Regions from separate parts of the Homo sapiens genome. Here region 1 is linked to region 2. The links come from fine-mapping of genetic effects on gene expression. A gene starts in region 2. The other region holds a variant in brackets. All regions are shown on one strand. Distances are between the middles of the regions. Region 1 has its middle 13 kb from the start of PAK1. Region 2 holds the start of MYO7A (myosin VIIA).

Region 1 (2,995 bases), 360 kb after region 2:
TACCCACAAAAATTTTAAAATAAAAAAAAATTTTTTTTTTGAGACAAAGTTTCACACTTGTTGCCCAGGCTGGAGTGCAATGGCGCAATCTCAGCTCACTGCAACCTCTGCCTCCTGGGTTCAAGCAATTCTCCTGCCTCAGCCTCCCGAGTAGCTGAGATTACAGGCGTCTGCCACCTCACCTGGTGAATTTTGTATTTTTAGTAGAGATGGGGTTTCACCATGTTGGTCAGGCTGATCTTGAACTCCTGACCTCAGGTGACCCACCCACCTTGGTCTCCCAAAGTGCTGGGATTACAGGCGTGAGCCACCATGCCTGGCCTAAACTTCTTAATGTAAAATTAAAATTTTAAAAAGGAGTTATCTAGAGCAGCAGCAGCATTCTGATTCTTCGGTTGCAACTATAATAGTGTGTTCTCGAACATCGGTAGTTCCGTCGATGGTTTTTTGATTCTCCACCTCTCTTACGGTAAAAGAGATGGCAGCTCCAGTGGCCAGCCAGTTTTGCAGTATTATTCTGGGGATTATTCCTGGAGGTCTAGCTTACAGCTCACTCCTCCTAACTTTGCAACAACTTCATAAACATCTCATTTCCTTTTAAATCCTCTTCCATTTACCATAGCTAGAGTGATTTCTGTTTTCTGCACTTGAAGCTTGACTGATACACACCCCTTTTTCTTGAGCTGGTTTAAAAAGGTTCCTGTTCCTTGCAGCCAAGTGATCCTAGTCTAAGATATCGGTGGGGGTATTAAAAGTTGACTATTGCAGGCCGGCCATGTGGCTCATGCCTGTAATCCTAGCACTTTGGGAGGCTGAGATGGGAAGATTCCTTGAGCAGCCTAGGAGTTCAAGACCAGCCTGGGCAACATAGCAAGATCCCATCTCAAAAAAAAAAGTTGACAATTGCAGAGGAGGAGGTGGGGCAAGATGGCTGAATAAAAGCCTCTACTAATTGTCCTCCCCACAGGAACACCAAATTGAACAACTATTCACACAAAAAAATCACCTTCATAACAACCAAAAATCAGGTGAGTAATCATAGTACCTGGTTTTAACTTCATATTACTTAAAGAGCACATAAAAGGGTAGAAAAAACCATCTTGAATTGCAGACACCACCCCTCTTCCATCCCCTGGCAGTGGCCACATGGCATGGAGAGAGAATCTATGTGTTTGGGGGAGGGAAAGCACAGTGATTGTGGCACACTTTGCATTGGAACTCACTGCCACCCTGTCACAGTGGGAAGCAACACCATCCAAAACTCAGCCAGAACCCATGGAAGCATGGAAGAGCATTTAGACCAGCCCTATCTGGGTGGG[G/A]AATTGTCTATCCCAGTAGCTGAGACCTGAGTTCCAGCAAGCCTCATCATTGTGGGCTAAAATGCTCTGGGGTTCTAAGTAAACTTGAGAGGCAGTCTAAGCCACAGGACTGCAATTCCTCGGCAAGTCCGGGTGCTGTTCCAGGATCAGAGCCAGTGGACTTAGGGGTTATGTGACCTAGTGAGACACTGGCCAGGGTAACCAAGGAAATGCTTGCACCACCTCTCCCACAGCACCAGGCAGCACAGCTCATGGCTCCAGGAGAGACTCCTTCCTTCCACCTGAGGAGAGGAGAGGGAAAAGTAAAGAGGACTTTGTCTTGCAACTTAGATACTTGCTCAGCCACAGTAGGATAGGGCAACAGGTAGAATCCTGAGGACCCCATTCGAGGCCCTAGCTCCTGGATGACATTTCTATACACACTCTGGGCCAGAAGGGAACATGCTGCCTTGAGGAAAAGAACCCACTAATAGCAGAATTTGTCATCATCTGCTGACTATACAGTCCTTGGGTCCTGAATAAACAGCAGGGATAGCCAGGTGGTACTCACCATGGGCCCTGGGTGAGAGATTCAGAGATGTGCTGGCTTCAGGTGTAAACCCAGCACATTCCCAGCTATGGTAGCCACAGGGAGGGACTCCTTCTGCTTGAGAAAAAAGTAGAGAGGACTTTGTCTTGCAGTTAGGTACCAGCTCAGCCACAGTAGGGTAGAGCACCAAGCAGGCTCTTGGGGTTCCTGATTCCAGGCCTTGGCTTGTGGATGGCATATCTGGACCTTCCCTGGGACCAGGGCCCTAAAGGGAGAGTCCCAGGCCCAGCAGCATTCACCACAAGTTGACTGAAGAGCCTTGGGTCTTGAGTGAACATTGGTGGTAGCCAGGCAGTACTTGCTGTGGGCCTGGGGCATGGTGGCCACAGGGAGAGATTCTTCTGCAAAGGGAGGGAAGAGTATGAAGAACTTTATCTTGTGTCTTGGGTACCAGCTCAGTCACAGTAGAATAGAGCACCAGGTAGATCCCTAAGGTTTCTGACTCTAGGCCTGGCTCCTGGACGGCATCTCTGAACCCACCTGGAGTCAGGGGAACTCACTGCCCTGAAGAGAAGGACACAAGCCTGGCTGGCTTCTATTGTAGAGCCCTAGGGCCTTGAGTGAACATAGGAAGTACCAGGCAGTAGTTACTGTGGCTCTTGGGCAAGACCCAGTTATGTACTGGCTTTAGGTCTGACTCAGTGCAGTCCCAATGGTAGTAGTCACAGAGGTGCTTGTATCACTCCTCTTCCAGCTCCAGGTGGCTCAGCATACAGAGAGAGACTTTATGTGTTTGGGAGAAAGTAAAGGAAGGGAGCAAGAGTCTCTACTTGGTAATCTGGATAATGCTTCTGCATCTTATCGAAGACCACCAAGGCACTACCTCTATGAGTCTGTAAGAGCCATAGTGTTACTGGGCTTGGGGTTGCCCCTAAGGCAAATATGGCTGTAGTGATTTAAAAAAAAACTTGGATCACAACACCCGAGTCCCTTCAAATACCTGGAAAGCCTTTCCAGTACAGGTGCAAACAAGCCCAAACTGTGAAGACCACAATAAATGCTTAATTCTTCAATGCCCAGACACCAATGGACATCCACAAGCATCAAGACCATCTATGAAAACATGAGATCACCAAATGAACTAAAT
Region 2 (2,817 bases):
GAAAGCAGAGTGGACGACTCAATGAAAAACGACTTGGGAGACGGGGTGAGTGCAGTGTGAGGGCAAAGTGAACCGAGATGCCTCGCTTTCTTCATGGGACTGAGAAATGGGTATTGCAAATCGTGTGATCTGCTTAGCATAGTGCCTGGTTCATAGCATGGCTGAACACAATGTAGCTGTCATCCTGGTGTTTGGAGGCCGCCCTGTCCCCCATAACCTGCCCACCTCTCTGCCCCATTCCCACAGCTCACTGCATTTTGTCCCTGCTGCCAGTCGTGTGCCATGGGCTCTCCTGTGCTCCCCCGGGGTCTCATTTCCCCATCCGTGTAGGGCTGACGCCACTGGCCCCGCCCAGCCTGGGAGGATGGAGAGGGGGGACTTGAGGAGTGGCCAGTACTGGGTTTCGGCAGCAGGTGCAAATCCCAGGTGGGGACTGTGTTCCAGGGACTCCTGGACTCCTGTTAGGCCAGCAGGCTAAGGGGCAGACGGCATCCTGGGGTCTTCCTGGGACAGGGTCGTCGGGTCTGAGGGGACCCAGGCCCTAGCAGAAGCTGACTCCTGTCACGGTCACTTCCCAGCGGTGCTCAGCCCGCCTGACGGAAGCAGCTGGGCAGTGGGGCCTGTGACCAGCAGGCGGCGCTGGCGAGCTATAGCGCCCCTTTGGGCCCCCACCCCACCTTCTGGGCAGCTTCCCTGCAGACACCCCAGTTATGGGGGCTAGGGACCCAAAAGAGACATCCTTCTGCCACCCAGAGCTGCCCTGGCGAGGTGCACTATGGGGCCGCCGACAGCTGCGTGGCTGCCGAGGGCGGAAAGGAGAAACTGTCATGTCCCGATAGGGCCGCGCGAGGTCTCCATCCTCGACAACGCTAATAACAAAGACGTGTGCTCCTCTTTGCTTGGTTCCCCCCACTCCTTTAAATCACAGATTTCACTTCAGTTTATCTGTGTCGCTGTCACACGTGGGGTGGCTCCCAGTCAGCTGGTTTGGCAAAGTTTCTGGATGATTACGGAATAACATGTGTCCCCAACCCGCAGAGCAGGTTGTGGGGGCAATGTTGCATTGACCAGCGTCAGAGAACACACATCAGAGGCAAGGGTGGGTGTGCAGGAGGGAGAAGGCGCAGAAGGCAGGGCTTTAGCTCAGCACTCTCCCTCCTGCCATGCTCTGCCTGACCGTTCCCTCTCTGAGTCCCAAACAGCCAGGTAGAGGAGGAAGAAATGGGGCTGAGACCCCAGCACATCAGTGATTAAGTCAGGATCAGGTGCGGTTTCCTGCTCAGGTGCTGAGACAGCAGGCGGTGTCCTGCAAACAACAGGAGGCACCTGAAGCTAGCCTGGGGGGCCCACGCCCAGGTGCGGTGCATTCAGCAGCACAGCCAGAGACAGACCCCAATGACCCCGCCTCCCTGTCGGCAGCCAGTGCTCTGCACAGAGCCCTGAGCAGCCTCTGGACATTAGTCCCAGCCCCAGCACGGCCCGTCCCCCACGCTGATGTCACCGCACCCAGACCTTGGAGGCCCCCTCCGGCTCCGCCTCCTGGGAGAAGGCTCTGGAGTGAGGAGGGGAGGGCAGCAGTGCTGGCTGGACAGCTGCTCTGGGCAGGAGAGAGAGGGAGAGACAAGAGACACACACAGAGAGACGGCGAGGAAGGGAAAGACCCAGAGGGACGCCTAGAACGAGACTTGGAGCCAGACAGAGGAAGAGGGGACGTGTGTTTGCAGACTGGCTGGGCCCGTGACCCAGCTTCCTGAGTCCTCCGTGCAGGTGGCAGCTGTACCAGGCTGGCAGGTCACTGAGAGTGGGCAGCTGGGCCCCAGGTAAGGATGGGCTGCCCACTGTCCTGGGCATTGGGAGGGGTTTGGATGTGGAGGAGTCATGGACTTGAGCTACCTCTAGAGCCTCTGCCCCACAGCCACTTGCTCCTGGGACTGGGCTTCCTGCCACCCTTGAGGGCTCAGCCACCACAGCCACTGAATGAAACTGTCCCGAGCCTGGGAAGATGGATGTGTGTCCCCTGGAGGAGGGAAGAGCCAAGGAGCATGTTGTCCATCGAATCTTCTCTGAGCTGGGGCTGGGGTTAGTGGCATCCTGGGGCCAGGGGAATAGACATGCTGTGGTGGCAGAGAGAAGAGTCCGTTCTCTCTGTCTCCTTTGCTTTCTCTCTGACACTCTTTATCTCCGTTTTTGGATAAGTCACTTCCTTCCTCTATGCCCCAAATATCCCATCTGTGAAATGGGAGTATGAAGCCCCAACAGCCAGGGTTGTAGTGGGGAAGAGGTAAAATCAGGTATAGACATAGAAATACAAATACAGTCTATGCCCCCTGTTGTCAGTTGGAAAAGAAATTAACTTGAAGGTGGTCTAGTTCTCATTTTTAGAAATGAAATGTCTGTCTGGTCATTTTAAAATGTGGCCCTTAAATTTCACGCCCTCACCACTCTCCCCCATCCCTTGGAGCCCCATGTCTCTAGTGAAAGCACTGGCTCTGCCCCCAGCCCTCATGGCTCATGCTGGCATAGGGCGCCTGCTCCACAGCCTGGGCACCATCTTCAGACAAGTGCCCGGTGGCAACTGCCTGCTGGCCCTGTTGAATCCACATCTCCACCAGGCATCCAGACTAGTTCAGGTCTCTGGAAGGACTGTGGGTTTGCTGTGTCCCAGAGCTCCAGGGCAGGGGTCAGGGCTCGGATGTCGGGCAGTGTCATGGGCAGAGGATCGAATGCCCCGGCGGCTCTGAATGGGCCCTTGTGAAAAATTGATGCGCATTCTAGGAGACAGGTTGGGAGCCAGAGGGGCCTCATACCAGGGTCTGT

Evidence for each region. PIP is the estimated chance that this variant, and not a neighbour inherited with it, causes the effect.
Region 1: its variant is the best candidate, but not a certain one, in a credible set for the expression of MYO7A in whole blood (INTERVAL, PIP 0.50).

What each region holds. Positions count from the first base shown.
Region 1 is chr11:77,485,453-77,488,447 of GRCh38, forward strand. It overlaps a transcript of PAK1 not described here. Among named protein-coding and RNA genes, the nearest start is that of PAK1, 13 kb to the left of the region's middle. The variant G/A (reference allele first, on the strand shown) is at 1,320.
Region 2 is chr11:77,126,670-77,129,486 of GRCh38, forward strand. MYO7A (myosin VIIA) reads left to right here and starts at 1,577. Exons shown (of 49, transcript NM_000260.4): 1 at 1,577-1,820. RefSeq lists enhancers at 263-985, 986-1,709, 2,432-2,817.